2 linked regions of the Homo sapiens genome follow. The protein of the gene in region 1 binds, or shares a complex with, the protein of each later gene. Each region holds a gene or a part of one and is shown in the gene's direction. Other genes may lie near its edges.

Region 1 (7,984 bases):
ACTCTATCCTTAGACCAGCATCTCGAGCCATTGCTCTGACTATGGGGTAGCCATTCTTTTATTCCTTTACTTTCTTTTTTTTTTTTTAGAGGGAGTCTTGCTCTGTCTCCCAGGCAGGAATGCAGTGGCAGGATCTCCGCTCACTGCAACCTCTACCTCCTGGGTTCAAGCGATACTCCTGCATCAGCCTCCTGAGTAGCTGGGATTACAGACGTGCGTCACCATGCCTGCCTAACTTTTTTTGTATTTTTAGTAGAGATGGGGTTTCACCATGTTGGCCAGGATGGTCTCAAACACCTGACTTCCAGTGATCCACCCGCCTCAGCCTCCCAAAGTGGTGTGATTACAGGTGTGAGCCACCACGCTCGGCCTCCTTTACTTTCTTTTTTCTTTTTCTTTTTTTTTGAGATGGAGTCTTGCTCTGTTGCCCAGGCTGGAGTGCAGTGGTACGATGTCGGCTCACTGCAGCCTCCACCTTGCCTCCTGGGTCCTGGTTCAAGCAATTCTCCTGCCTCAGCCTCTGGAGTAGCTGGTATTATAGGCGCACGTCACCACGCCCAGCTAATTTTTGTATTTTTAGTAGAGGTGGGGTTTCACTATGTTGGCCAGGCTGGTCTTGAACTCCTGACCTCGTGATCCACCCCCCTCAGCCTCCCAAAGTGCTGGGATTACAAGCGTTAGCCACCACGCCCGGCCCCTTTACTTTCTTAATAAACTCATTATCGGCTGGGTGCCGTGGCTCATGCCTGTAATCCCAGCACTTTGGGAGGCCGAGGCAGGTGGATCACCTGAGGTCAGGAGTTCAAGATCAGCCTAGCCAACATGGTGAAACTCCACCTCTGCTAAAAATACAAAAATTAGCTGGGTGTGGTGGTGTGCGCCTGTAATCCCAGTTACTCAGGAGGATGAGGCAGGAGAATCACTTGAACCCAGGAGGCGGAGGTTACAGTGAGCTGAGATTGCCCCACTGCACTCCAGCCAGGGTGACAAGAGCAAAACTCTGTCTGAAAAAGAATAATAAATAAATAACTTGTTTTCACTTTATTGTATGGACTTGCCCCAAATTCTTTCCTGCACGAGATCCAAGAACCCTCTCTTGGGGTCTGAATCAGGACCCTTTTCCTGAAACAGTAACACCACCCAGATCAGGGCACAGAACATTATTACCTATCCTGAGAGGTGTCTTTGTGCCTTCTTCCAGGTACACCCTCCCCTCAAAGAGTAACCAGTATCCTGACTTCTAACACCATAGACTAGTTTTGCCTAACCTTACATAGTTTTTAAAATTGTAGGTGAATACAGAATCTGGAGCTACAGGACTTAGGGTTAGATCCCTGGTTCCTGGCTGAGTGATCTTCAACAAGCCATTTAATTTCTGTCACACTCAGTTTTCTTCTCTGTATAATGGTCATAAAAATACCTTGTACTGGCCGGGTGCGGTGGCTCACGCCTATAATCCCAGCACTTTGGGAGGCTAAGGCGGGCAGATCACAAGCTCAAGAGTTCAAGACCAGCCTGGCCAATATGGTGAAACCCCATCTCTACAAAAATACAAAAATTAGTCAGTCGTGGTGGCATGCACCTGTAATCCCAGCTGCTCGGGAGGCTGAGGCGGGAGAATCGCTTGAACCCGGGAGGCAGAGGTTGCAGTGAGCGGAGGTTGGGCCACTGCACTCAAGCCTGGGCGACAGAGTGAGACTCAGTCTCCAAAAAAAAAAAAAGCAAATTCTCAGGCCCTGCCCCAGACCTACTGAATCAGAAACTCTAGGAGTGGCCTCAGCAACCTACAGTTTAACTAACTTTGCAGGCAATTCTGATAAGTACTGAGGTTTGAAAACCACTGCACTAGAGAAACTGAATGAGGATGGGGCGCAGGAATCTGTATTTTAGCAATCTTTCCTAAGGCATGTTGCAGGAAACATGAAGTGGTTTTGAAAGTACTTTGCTTGAGGCTTGAAGGCTTGAACCTAGGAGTTTGATTTTTTATTTTTTTTAGATGGGGTTTCACTCTGTCACTCAGGATGGAGTGCAGTGGCGTGATCTTGGCTCACTGCAGTCTCCGTCTCCTGAGTTCAAGCAATTCTCCCACCCCAGCCTCCCGAGTAGCTGAGATTACAGGGGTGTGCCATGCCCAACTAATTTTTGCATTTTTTTTTTTGAGACAGATTCTCGCTCTGTGGCCCAGGATGGAGTGCAGTAGCACGATCTTGGCTCACTGCAACCTCCGCCTCCCAGGTCCAAGCAATTCTCTGCCTCAGCCTCCTGACTAGCTGGGATTACAGGCACCCGCCACCACGCCCGGCTAATTTTTGTATTTTTAGTAGAGATAGGGTTTCACCATGATAGCCAGGCTGGTCTTGAACTCCTGATCTCGTGATCCGCCCGCCTTGGCCTCCCAAAGTGCTGGGATTATAGGCGTGAGCCACCGTGCCCGGTCTAATTTTTGCATTTTTAGTAGAGATGGGGTTTCACCATGTTAGCCAGGCTGGTCTTGAACTCCTGACCTCAGTTGATCCATCCGCCTCGGCCTCCCAAACCATGCCCAACAAATTTTTGCATTTTTAGTAGAGACAAGATTTCACCATGTTGGCCAGGCTGGTCTCAAACTCCTGACCTCAGGTGATCCACCCGCCTCAGCCTCCCGAAGTGCTGGGATTATAGGAGTGAGCTACTGCGCCCAGCCTTTATGTTTCTTTTGTTGTTTGTTTTTTGAGACAGAGTCTCGCTGAGTCGCCCAGGCTGGAGTGCAATGGCGTGATCTTGGGTCACTGCAACCTCCCCCTCCTGGGTTCAATCAATTATCGTGCTTCAGCCTCCCAAGTAGCTGGGATTACAGGCACCCGCCACCACACCTGGCTAATTTTTGTGTTTTTAGTAGGGAAGGGGTTTCACAAGGCTAGGCGTGGTGGCTCACCCAACTCTACTAAAAATACAAAAATTAGCCAGGCGTGATGGCATGCGCTTGTAGTCCCAGCTACTTAGGAGGCTGAGACAGGAGAATCACTTGAACCCAGGAGGCGAGCGGAGGTTGCAGTGAGCCAAGATTGCGCCACTGCACTCCAGCCTGGGCGACAGAGCAATACTCTGTCTCAAAAAAAAAAAAAAAAAAAAAAAGAGACGGGGTTTCACCATGTTGGCCAGACTGGTCTCAAACTCCTGACCTCAAGTGATTTGCCTGCCTTGGCCTCCCTAACTCCTGGGATTACAGGTGTAAGCCACTGACCCTAGCCAAGCCTAGGAGTCTGAGAACAGCCTGGGCAACACAGGGAGTCCACGTCTCTACAAAAATAAAAACAATTAGGATAGTGTGGTGGCTTGAGCCTGGAGTCCCAGCTACTCAGGAAGCTGAGGTGAGAGGATCACTTGAGCCCAGGAGGTTGGCTGCAGTGAGCTATGATTGCACCGCTGCACTCCAGGTTGGGTGACAGAGCAAGACTCTGTCTCAAAAAAAAAAAAAAAAAAAAAGTCACTTTGAAAAATGTGACTTTCCAGATGGCAAAATACTATTTTCATTAGGAGGAAACAGGCTAAACAGTAATAGCAAAGGTCACTAAGTATTGAGCACTTAGTCATACCTCTGAGTCTCTGCCTGCATAGCCTATTATTTCTCACAAGCAATCCATGAAGAAGGTTAAGACAACGGACTTTCACGCCAGACTGCCTGGGTTCTTATCAAGTATGTGACTTAGTTTATATATTTGTAAAATGGGGATAATAATGGTATTTCTGTAATAGGTTTGTTGTGAGAATAAAGGGAGCTTGGTATCAGCTCTTAGAATACCGGACAGGCCACGTTGGCTCCACTAAGCTGTTGTCATCATCCCTAAGGGCACCCAGTTAAAAGGTAGAAAAGGGAGGATTTGAATCCGGTCAGTGTAACTCTCAAGTGTACATTTTTTTTCTTTTATTTTCTTTTTAACCACGCCCTTTAATGTACATTGTTAAAGGCTAAGCCAGGCCAGGTGCAGTGGCTCACATCTGTAATCTCAGCGATTGGGAGGCCCGAGGAGGGAGTATCGCTTGAGCCCAGGAGCTGGAGACCAGCCTGGGCAACATGGCGACACCGTGGCCCTATTCCCGCCCCATCCCATCCGCACTCCACCCCATCCCCATCTCTACAAAGAATAGAACAAAATTAGTCGGGTGTGGTGGTGCTCAACTGCTGTCCCAGCTACTCAGGAAGCCCAGGTGGGAGGCTCGCTTGAGCCCAGGAGTGTGAGGCTGTAGTGAGCTATGACTGCACCACTGCACTCCAGCCTGGGTGAAGGGTGAGACCTTATCTCAAAAAGAAGAAAAAAAAAGAAAAGGAAAAGAAAAAGAAAAAAGAACAACTAAGTTATAAACTAAGCTATATAGCCCATTGGTTCTCAAATTATGATTTCACTCACTAGCAGTATCACTAGACAGCTTGTTGGACATGCAAATTATCAGACCCTATCCTCCTATGCCAGATCTTCTGATCAGAAACTCTGGGGGTGGGGGTCAGCAGTGTAAGTTTTAATAAGCTCTCTAGGTGATTCTGATGCACACCATAGTTTGAGAATCACAGTCCTTATAGGCTCTGGTGGGCGGGGTGTTAAAAAAAAAAAAAAGCCTGGAGGTGCTGGGAGCCGCTCGCGCCCATCTCACCTGGAGCTGAGGAAAACTGGGATTTAACTGATTTACCACCGCAGCCAGCTCTTCAAGCCAGGGGCGGGCCGGACGGCTGGCGCGCAAGGCCTGCTGGGGCTTGTAGTCTAGACCACTTCCGCGCTCAGGCGCCTGCGCTTTAGCTGCTAACTCGCTCTAGTAGCTGTGGTCGGGGCTCGGGACCGGCTGCCATCTTAGTCTAGGGACTGAGGAGTCGCCGCCGCCCCGAGTCCCGGTAAACCCCCGTGGGCGAACTCGGGGCAGTTCTCGGGAGAGGGAGGGAGTCCGGATGAGAATGTTCGGGGAGAACAAGGGTAGAGGAGTGGGACGCGCGGTTCGGGACCCCAGAGCCGCGGCTGCTCCTTCTTCCAGAGCCGGTGTCTGTCGGGGGCGCGGGGAGCTCGGGCTACTGGCCCGGGCCGGGCGGTGGGGGTGGGCTGTCTGGACGTTCGGAGGGATCAGTGTCTGGCACAGGCTTCCGGAGGCCTTCGCCTCGCGGGCTCCAAGTTGTGAAAGGGCTGGGCCACGACGGGCGTGGGTACCGTCCGGCCCCTCGCCCCTCAGCCCCGCCTGGGGCCACTCTCCAGCGGTTCGGCCTACGCGCGGGGCCCGGCGGCGGGGCCGGCGCGGGCGACGTGGCCCTGTGAGGGGCGGCGGCCGGGTCCCCCGCCACCCAGCTGGCCTTCTCGAGACTTTTCCGAGCCCCCAGTCGCTAGAAGGGCCCAGCACAGCGGCTGCCTCCCCTTCTCTCTCCCACTCGCCTCCTCCTTCCATTGTCCCCCCGGCGTGGTGGTCCCGGCTCCGGCGCCCTCCCCGACGTCCGCCACCGTCGTGGCGGCGCCGACTTTTGCAGACGTGGAGCTGTCACTGCCCTTCCTCCGGAGAGTGCCCTTTTCTTTAGCAGAGAAAAGAAAAAAGTAGCCGTTGAACGTATTCTAAGGGTCGAAGCATGATGACATGACTTTTAAGTGGAGAACTCAAGTTTTCCAAGACAGTTCCCGTCCGCGACAGAAAAGAGAATCGCAGAATTTGTGCGCCCGAAGTAGACGCTGGGCCTAAAGTTAGTTGGACATGTAACCAGGTGAACTTGTAAAGGGCCAGGAATTCATTATCCCCAATAACAACGCAACCTTGTTTTCTTGGTTGTATTCGTATCCTAATCTTATTACATTTTCTGCCATTCTTCCACAGCTACAGTATACTTGGTTTGGAGTGGGGGATGGGGAATTGTGGGATTTTTGCCTTGAAAATTAGTAAGACCCTGGAGCCAGCCACCCACTTAGGTGGGTTCTCCTGCATCTTTTCCTGATAGAATTCGATCTTCAGGAAGTATGTAAAGGCAGTGTATTTCCATTCTCAAAATCGGCTAAGGAATGGTTTATCAGTTGAGGTGAAGTTCTCATGGCAGATCTGCTGAGAGCTTGCTATGTGTATTTACAGGTTTATTTAAGCTACGATTTATTTTTAAAATTAAGAAATGGGCCGGGTGCTGTGTGTGGCTCACGCCTGTAATCCTAGCACTTTGGGAGGCCGAGGCGGGCAGATCATGAGGTCAGGAGTTCGAGACCATCCTGACCAACATGGTGAAACCCCGTCTCTACTAAAAATACAAAAAAAAAAAAAAAAAAATCCTGGGCGTGGTGGCGCGCGCCTGTAGTCCCAGCTACTAGGGAGGCTGAGGCAGGAGAATGGCTTGAACCCGGGAGGTGGAGGCTGCAGTGAGCCGAGATCTCGCTGCTGCACTCCAGCCTGGGCGACAGAGCGAGACTCCGCCTCAAAAAAAAAAAAAAAAAAAAAGCAATGGGATGGGTGTGGTGGCTCACGCCTGTAATCCCAGCAATTTGGGAGGCCGAGGTGGGCGGATTACGTGAGCCCAGGAATTGGAGATCAGCCTGGGCAACATCGTGAAACCCCGTCTCTACAAAAAATACAAAGATTTGCCGGGTGTGGTGGCAGGCGCCTGTGGTCCCAGATACTCAGGAGGCTGAGGTGGGGGAATCACCTGATTCCGGGGGGTCGAGGCTGCGGTGAGCTGTTACCGTTGCCACTGCATTCCAGCCTGGGTGACAGAGTGAGACCCTGTCTCAAAAAATAAAAAAAAAAATTTAGAAATGAAGGTGGAAATTCTACTGCTTCTTTGAACTGTGAATTTAAGTTTTGTGAGTCCAAAAGGAATTCCATTACATTCAGCATACAGGTCAAGTCACCAAGGATATCATATGAAATTAAAAAAATGAGTACAGACTACTTCTTCAGTGTATTCTAGAATCAAACATTTCTACATTCTTTAGAAAAAAATACATCTTTTTCGTTTGTTTGAGACGGAATCTAACTTTGTCACCCAGGCTGGAGTACAGTGGTGTGATCTCGGCTTACTGTAACCTCCGCCTCCCGGGTTCCAGCAATTCTTCTGCCTCAGCCTCCGTAGTAGCTGGGACTACAGGCGCGTGCCACCACTCCCGGTAATTTTTTTGTATTTTTTAGTAGAGATGGGTTTTCACCATATTGGCTAGGCTGCTCTCGAACTCCTGACCTCGTGATCCACCTGCCTTGGCCTCCCAAAGTGCTGGGTTTACAGGCATGAGCCGCCACTCCTGGCCCTAAAAAATACATCTTTTCACTTATTGGGAGAGGCAGACAAACCAGTAGTCCCCAAATTTGACCATTAGAATAATTAGGAGAGCTTAGAAATTCCAGGGTCTTACCTTCTGAGATGGATTTAGTAGGTCTGGGTTGGCTTCAACCAATTTATTTTTAACACATGCCTTAGGTAATTCTGATGGTCTTGGGAACCACTGAGGGCAAATGGTACTGTAGACTTACCAAGGAAAGGTCAAAAAGCTTTGAGACGAAAGAGGAAGTGGCCAATTCTGTGTGTGTGGCTGGGTGGAGGATTGGTTAGAAGAGGCAAGATTTGCCCCTGAACCCACATTGGGTCTTACATGAAGAGTAGGAGTGTGAAAAGGGCGGGGAAAGAGAAGGACAGGGTAGGCTGAGTGAATGCCTTAATGCTGTGTGTAAATTCAGAGGATTATGGAACAAAAAGGGTTCAGGGAGTGTGGAGTGGAATGGGGAAGGAGAGCATTTTGAAACGCAAGGTCAGAAAGGTTAAAGGAAGCAAGTATATGAAAAGTGATTTTTTGTTGTTGAGACTGGGTCTCACCCAGTCACGCAGGATGGAGTGCAGTGACAGGACCTCCAGAGCTCAAGTGATCTTCCCACCCCAGCCTCCCTGAGTAGCTGGGACAACAGGCATGCATTAGCATGCCTGGCTAATTTTTAAAATTTTTTTGTAGAGAAAGGTTCTCTTTACGTTGCCCAGTCTGGTCTTAACTCCTGTGTTCAAGTGGTCCTC
Region 2 (7,495 bases), on another chromosome or scaffold:
CAGGCTGGAGTGCAGTGGCGAGATCTCGGCTCACTGCAAGCTCCACCTCCCAGGTTCACGCCATTCTCCTGCCTCAGCCTCCCGAGTAGCTGGGACTATAGGCGCCTGCCACCACACCCGGCTAATTTTTTGTATTTTTAGTAGAGACGGGGTTTCACTGTGTTAGCCAGGATGGTCTCAATCTCCTGACCTCGTGATTTGCCTGCCTCAGCCTCCCAAAGTGCTGGGATTACAGGCGTGAGCCACCGCGCCCAGCCTTTTTTTTTTTTTTTAAAGAGAGATGGGGTCTCACTACAATGCCCAGGGTGATCTTCTTGAATTCCTGGCCTCAAGTGATCTTCCCATTTCAGCCTCCCAAAGTGCTGGGATTACAGGCATGAGCCACCACACCTGGCTTACAATTGTTAATTTATTCTTATTGATCTATGACTTGGGGCAGTCTTCAAACTCTTAATTTGCCTCTAAATTCCTTAGGGAAAAAATTGAAAGGGAAAAGGGTGCCTATAATCCCAGCACTTTGGGAGGCCGAGGTAGGCGGACTGCTTGAGCAGGAGTTTGAGACCAGCCTGGCCAACATGGTGAAACCCCATCTCTACCAAAAATACAAAAATTACCTAGGCGTGGTGGAGCACATCTGTAGTCCCAGCTACTCGGGAGGCTGAGGTGGGAGAATCACTTGAGCCTGGGATGCGGAGGTTTCAGTGAGCCAAGTGACACTGCATTCCAACCTGGTTGAGAGTGAGACCCTATGTGGAAAAAAAAAGAGAGAGAGAAAGGAAAATGGGTAAGGGTAAAAGGGAAGTTTACAGAGTAGAGGTGAGAGAAGTGATTAAAAGGACCAAGAAAGGGCTTTGTTCTGCATTAAGAACTATGAGTCTTCATGTTCTAAATGTTTGTCAGGCCAGAGGTTAAAGAAAAGAGAAATGCAATCAGTGTCTTGTCTCTGACTGGCAACAAAGTGCTGAGGGCACTTCCCTCCCTGAAACTGCTGGCTTTATTCTGTCACCTGCAGTAAAGCAAACAAACAACAATCACCACTTGGTTTCCTGTTGGCACTGGGACTGAAGAGGGTAGAGAAGGGGCAGATAAAGATGATCCAACTTGCAAAACTCTTTGACTGTGCCCTACTTTGCTGTTCCTCCTTGGCCCACCCCTTTTCCCAAACCTCACAAGTGTTTTTATACCCTGATTTTAGGACAAGAGTTTACAAAATTTCTTTCTTCTTAGACCCAAGAACTGGGAAAGGAGAATCGGGGCAGGTTTTTATCAGAATACCAGGTTACAAGGTGAAAGGTCGTAAACAACCGTGTCCAGGAGGACTCCACTTCAGAACATGCCTTGGCTACAGGCCTGGTAGGCAGCAGCTGCTGCCAAAGCTAAATAATTTTTTGGCATTTAAAGGAACCCAGGCATAACACAGAGCAACGTAGTCTGTAGTGAGCTCTGCAAATGGGAAGATACAAGGAAACCAGAGCCCAGAAGAGAAACTTAGAACGAGAGAATTGTCATAGGATTTTTTAAAACTCAGCAATTCAGTACTTCAGAGATGTGCCCACATAAATATCAAATAAATTGAAAGGGAAAAGGGTGCCTATAATCCCAGCACTTTGGGAGGCCAGGTAGGCGGACTGCTTGAGCAGGAGTTTGAGACCAGCCTGGCCAACATGGTGAAACCCCATCTCTACCAAAAATACAAAAATTACCTAGGCGTGGTGGAGCACATCTGTAGTCCCGGCTACTCGGGAGGCTGAGGTGGGAGAATCACTTGAGCCTGGGATGTGGAGGTTTCAGTGAGCCAAGTGACACTGCATTCCAACCTGGTTGAGAGTTGGATGTCTTAAGATGTCCCATATTACCACCACCCTGATCCATCACTAGCCACCATCTTTCCTATTCCCTCAAAATGTATGTAGTTAAGATTTAACAATATTTAACAATATTGACTATGTAGTTAACAATATTGATTCATATATTTGTCAGCATTTTGATGTTTGATAGTTACACTTTCATACCCATCAAACTAAACGTTCTCCCAGAAGCCACAATTTTGAACTTTTAAAATTACTTCAGTCAGGCCAGGCACGGTGGCTCACGCCTGTAATCCCAGCACTTTGGGAGGCCAAGGCGGGTGGATCACCTGAGGTCAGGAGGAGTTCAAGACCATCTTGGGCAACATGGTGAAACCCCATCTCTACTAAAAATACAAAAATTAGCTGGGCGTGGTGATGCATGCCTGTAATGCCAGGTACTCAGGAGGCTGAGGCGGAGAATCGCTCTAACCCAGGAGGCAGAGGTTGCAGTGAGCTGGGGTCAGGCCACTGCACTCCAGCCTAGGCAACAGAGCAAGATTCCACCTTAAAAAAAAAATTACTTCAGTCAGAGTTCCACCTCCTCTGCTCCCAGTAACTCAATCAATATTGTTAACCAACTGAAAACACCTCAAGCCTAGCTGGTTAAGTTTCTAGAACAGGGTGCCGCCTCAAACACACCCTAAGGATCAACATGTTCCTGGGGTTTAATGCATGTGTGTGTTTTCGAAGAGACTCATGATGCCTATTCTTGAGCTTGCTTAATATTGGGGTTGAGTTGTAACTCTCGTTAGCCTTAGAGTGTCAATCCAGCTAGGCTGTCTGAGGAAGGAAGAAGGCTCTTTAACAGCAATGAATATTGTTTTTTTTTTGCTGATTGGGTAGGGTTTCAATATACTTGAATGCTTCTTAATTACCTCCCCATCTCAATCTTGGGACATTATCTTCCTCTTTCCAGCACAAGGAATTAAATAATAATCTTCTGATACCCCAGCACAGATATAGGAAGGGTCTATGAATCAAATAAAAGGAGGAAGAATCCCTGCACTTTTGCATACAGGTTTTTCCTATTACATTTAAGAGTAAGTTCTCAGTACTCAGCTCCTAAAGCATCTCACAGCCAGCAGGGGAAAATCCATCTGACAGCTGGCCAAACGAAACCAACAAAGAATGAAGAGAGAGGGTAGGGTCTCTTCTGGCTTGAATTTATAGTGCTCTGTTGACCGATCTTTCTTCTCTTTTCCTTCTTACTGTTTTCTAAACCGTTTAGGGAAAAACCTTTGAAAATAGTTTTTAAAATTGTTCCTTCAAACAGGTGTGTGGCCATCTCTCCACTGAAAATTTGGATATAAACAAGAGGACTTTCTCACTTTTAACCAGATTTATGGATGTACATTTGATTTAGTGAGTTGGAAGAGGGGATGGAGACAAGAAAGAGTGAACATAACTGGAAAAAAGTGAAAAGAGTGAAGCATCCTTTTTTTCCCGCTTTTCCTTTTCCTCCAGAAGCAGGTAGGAAGTGGGAGATAATGAGCGCCTGGACACACCTCACTAAAGAGGTAATGAGGTAAATGGGGAACACAGACAAAGTGTTCCCCAACTTTGCAGGTAGAAATTGAAGAGATGACAGGATAAGCAACAGGATGTAAACACGCCCCTCCTATTTCCGTTCCACAGAACAGAGAGAACAGAAGAGAGGGTACAAGCTGGGGGTGGGTGACGAACAGCACAGGCACGCAGCCCCCAGCCCTAGCCCCAAGGGATTGGAACGGGAAGGAGAAGACATCGGTCCTACACACACAATGAGGCCTGAAAGTTCTCCTTTCCCTCAGAGACGGTGGTGTTTTTTATACTTAATAGGGATGCGGGGCAAGAGAAGGACAAAGGGCTGTTCCTGAACAGTAACACCAAGCATTCTGCGCTCCACAGCCCCAAACCTGAAAGTATTCTTGGAGCTATGGGATTTTCACACACTTGCTATTTATGAGCCAGGAATAACGACAGGCTCTAAAGTAACTGCACTGGCTAAGACTAGGCATGAAATTCCCTCATAAGCACATTTTCCTTTTACCTCAAAACACCGCTCTCAGACCAGAAACGTCCACACCCGCCCTCCGATGGCCTGTCGCCCTGGCTAGGTTTTAGGGTCAGTGGGATCCTCCTTCCACTGGACCCGGGAGAAGACGCTCAACAGCCCCCTCCTTCCCCTCCTTCCTCTCCTTCCTCTCCTTCCCCCCTCCCTGCGCCGCTCCAGAGCGCAACAACCATTTTCCCAGCCAGGAGCACACCGTGTCCACGCGCCACAGCGATCTCACTGATTGGTCGGGCTCCTGGTAAACAAGGACCGGGCAGCCAATGGGAGGGATGTGCACGAGGGCAGCACGAGCCTCCGGGCCAGCGCTCGCGTGGCTCTTCTGGCCCGGGCTACTATATAGAGACGTTTCCGCCTCCTGCTTGAAACTAACCCCTCTTTTTCTCCAAAGGAGTGCTTGTGGAGATCGGATCTTTTCTCCAGCAATTGGGGGAAAGAAGGCTTTTTCTCTGAATTAGCTTAGTGTAACCAGCGGCGTATATTTTTTAGGCGCCTTTTCGAAAACCTAGTAGTTAATATTCATTTGTTTAAATCTTATTTTATTTTTAAGCTCAAACTGCTTAAGAATACCTTAATTCCTTAAAGTGAAATAATTTTTTGCAAAGGGGTTTCCTCGATTTGGAGCTTTTTTTTTCTTCCACCGTCATTTCTAACTCTTAAAACCAACTCAGTTCCATCATGGTGATGTTCAAGAAGATCAAGTCTTTTGAGGTGGTCTTTAACGACCCTGAAAAGGTGTACGGCAGTGGCGAGAAGGTGGCTGGCCGGGTGATAGTGGAGGTGTGTGAAGTTACTCGTGTCAAAGCCGTTAGGATCCTGGCTTGCGGAGTGGCTAAAGTGCTTTGGATGCAGGGATCCCAGCAGTGCAAACAGACTTCGGAGTACCTGCGCTATGAAGACACGCTTCTTCTGGAAGACCAGCCAACAGGTAAGCGGCCCAATTCATTGTTGGAGGGTGAAAGCTGATTAGAGAAGAGAATTGAATACACAAAACCTGTACGAAATGTTTTAAGTTGCTCAGTTTGAGTGGTTTGAATTACGTGTTGTTGCTTCCTTTTTTCTGTTTTAATTTGCAGACATTCTCCTCCCCCCCCAAAAAAAAGGGTGATTTGTACAATTTTTTATGGTGCTGTGTCCTAAAGGGGATCCTGAGGGGCGTTGCCTCGGGTAGTTAAAGTCTTATGTGTGCATAAGTTGCTTATTCTTTGTCTACTTCCTATTTGAGATGTTAGTAGAGAACTGTCCTGGGTGAATCTTTCAGTATTGCAGGGCTTGGCAACTTGCTGCCCGACAAAATACATCAGAATTTCTCTTTAAGAACAATATGGGATGGATTAAAAAATATATATATGGGATGAAATTGGGGGTACTTCAATACCTTGCATGCCACCCAAGCATTCCTTATCACACAGATGCATTTTAAGTGTAACAGCAAGCCTAATGGCTACTCGATTTTCTTTCCCTTCAGGTGAGAATGAGATGGTGATCATGAGACCTGGAAACAAATATGAGTACAAGTTCGGCTTTGAGCTTCCTCAGGGGTAAATATCAGCTAAATGCATCTTTGAACTTTTCTGTCTAAAATATCTTGCCCTCCTTTGATCACTTACTGTTCTTGGAGAGCGTTTTAAAATTTTCATTTTCTTGACACAGGCCTCTGGGAACATCCTTCAAAGGAAAATATGGGTGTGTAGACTACTGGGTGAAGGCTTTTCTTGACCGCCCGAGCCAGCCAACTCAAGAGACAAAGAAAAACTTTGAAGTAGTGGATCTGGTGGATGTCAATACCCCTGATTTAATGGTGAGATCCATTTTAAAGATTCTATTCTCCTGGGTCATGAGGATGATAAATCAGACGTCTTGGGCATTAGATTGAAGCATCTCAAAACACCTTTTTATCCCCTTCTATATAGGCACCTGTGTCTGCTAAAAAAGAAAAGAAAGTTTCCTGCATGTTCATTCCTGATGGGCGGGTGTCTGTCTCTGCTCGAATTGACAGAAAAGGATTCTGTGAAGGTAAAATCCTAGTGCTTATGGCAGTTAAAACAGGAACTGGGTTTAGGGGCAAGGGCATGGGACTGGGGTAGAGGAAGTGTCATTAACTATACTGAGTATCAGTAAGTTTTCATCTTTCTCATTGCTAGGTGATGAGATTTCCATCCATGCTGACTTTGAGAATACATGTTCCCGAATTGTGGTCCCCAAAGCTGCCATTGTGGCCCGCCACACTTACCTTGCCAATGGCCAGACCAAGGTGCTGACTCAGAAGTTGTCATCAGTCAGAGGCAATCATATTATCTCAGGGACATGCGCATCATGGCGTGGCAAGAGCCTTCGGGTTCAGAAGATCAGGCCTTCTATCCTGGGCTGCAACATCCTTCGAGTTGAATATTCCTTACTGGTGGGTAGATGCAGGGTGGCTTCAGCAGAGAAATTGTTCATCTGTTACCACAGCTGTCTTGTTTCTCCAGACCTCTGGTGTAATAAACTGCCATCTTCCTTTCTAGATCTATGTTAGCGTTCCTGGATCCAAGAAGGTCATCCTTGACCTGCCCCTGGTAATTGGCAGCAGATCAGGTCTAAGCAGCAGAACATCCAGCATGGCCAGCCGAACCAGCTCTGAGATGAGTTGGGTAGATCTGAACATCCCTGATACCCCAGAAGGTGAGCCAGACCTAATGTCTTTTCTTTGTTTCTGGTCTACCTGGGTTTGTAAAATTGTGATGGTCCAGCATTTCTTGGGCAGGATTCTTATGTGGCCATATTTTCTTTTCTAGCTCCTCCCTGCTATATGGATGTCATTCCTGAAGATCACCGATTGGAGAGCCCAACCACTCCTCTGCTAGATGACATGGATGGCTCTCAAGACAGCCCTATCTTTATGTATGCCCCTGAGTTCAAGTTCATGCCACCACCGACTTATACTGAGGTGAGGATTGTCATCTTTACTGTTAAATTTGTCCTAAGCTTTCTATAAGAAGTTGACTTAGACGGATTGCTAAACTGGTTTGTTCTTTTTGTTCTTACCTGAACTGAAATAGTCTGTTTCTTTCTTTAGGTGGATCCCTGCATCCTCAACAACAATGTGCAGTGAGCATGTGGAAGAAAAGAAGCAGCTTTACCTACTTGTTTCTTTTTGTCTCTCTTCCTGGACACTCACTTTTTCAGAGACTCAACAGTCTCTGCAATGGAGTGTGGGTCCACCTTAGCCTCTGACTTCCTAATGTAGGAGGTGGTCAGCAGGCAATCTCCTGGGCCTTAAAGGATGCGGACTCATCCTCAGCCAGCGCCCATGTTGTGATACAGGGGTGTTTGTTGGATGGGTTTAAAAATAACTAGAAAAACTCAGGCCCATCCATTTTCTCAGATCTCCTTGAAAATTGAGGCCTTTTCGATAGTTTCGGGTCAGGTAAAAATGGCCTCCTGGCGTAAGCTTTTCAAGGTTTTTTGGAGGCTTTTTGTAAATTGTGATAGGAACTTTGGACCTTGAACTTACGTATCATGTGGAGAAGAGCCAATTTAACAAACTAGGAAGATGAAAAGGGAAATTGTGGCCAAAACTTTGGGAAAAGGAGGTTCTTAAAATCAGTGTTTC

Evidence for each region.
Region 2: the proteins of ITCH (region 1) and TXNIP are in contact, whole or in part, in a crystal structure (PDB 5CQ2), measured with the Homo sapiens proteins. Residues at the interface, in NP_001244066.1 of Homo sapiens: Glu485, Arg487, Thr489, Tyr495, Val497, Asp498, His499, Arg502, Thr503, Thr504, Thr505, Tyr506, Leu516; in NP_006463.3 of Homo sapiens: Pro328 (codon at 6,558), Glu329 (codon at 6,561), Ala330 (codon at 6,564), Pro331 (codon at 6,680), Pro332 (codon at 6,683), Cys333 (codon at 6,686), Tyr334 (codon at 6,689), Val337 (codon at 6,698), Ile338 (codon at 6,701).

The regions. Positions count from the first base shown.
Region 1 is NC_000020.11:34,358,486-34,366,469, forward strand, and holds the start of ITCH (E3 ubiquitin-protein ligase Itchy homolog), read left to right. Parts: upstream 1-4,787; 5' UTR 4,788-4,864; intron 4,865-7,984. UniProt on the Homo sapiens protein: Acts as an Acts as an E3 ubiquitin-protein ligase which accepts ubiquitin from an E2 ubiquitin-conjugating enzyme in the form of a thioester and then directly transfers the ubiquitin to targeted substrates.
Region 2 is NC_000001.11:145,993,350-146,000,844, reverse strand, and holds the start of TXNIP (thioredoxin-interacting protein), read left to right. Parts: upstream 1-4,265; 5' UTR 4,266-4,578; coding exon 4,579-4,828; intron 4,829-5,100; exon of another isoform or gene 5,101-5,283; coding exon of another isoform or gene 5,284-5,368; coding exon 5,369-5,441; intron 5,442-5,553; coding exon 5,554-5,701; intron 5,702-5,813; coding exon 5,814-5,916; intron 5,917-6,044; coding exon 6,045-6,301; intron 6,302-6,407; coding exon 6,408-6,564; intron 6,565-6,677; coding exon 6,678-6,829; intron 6,830-6,958; coding exon 6,959-6,994; 3' UTR 6,995-7,495. UniProt on the Homo sapiens protein: May act as an oxidative stress mediator by inhibiting thioredoxin activity or by limiting its bioavailability.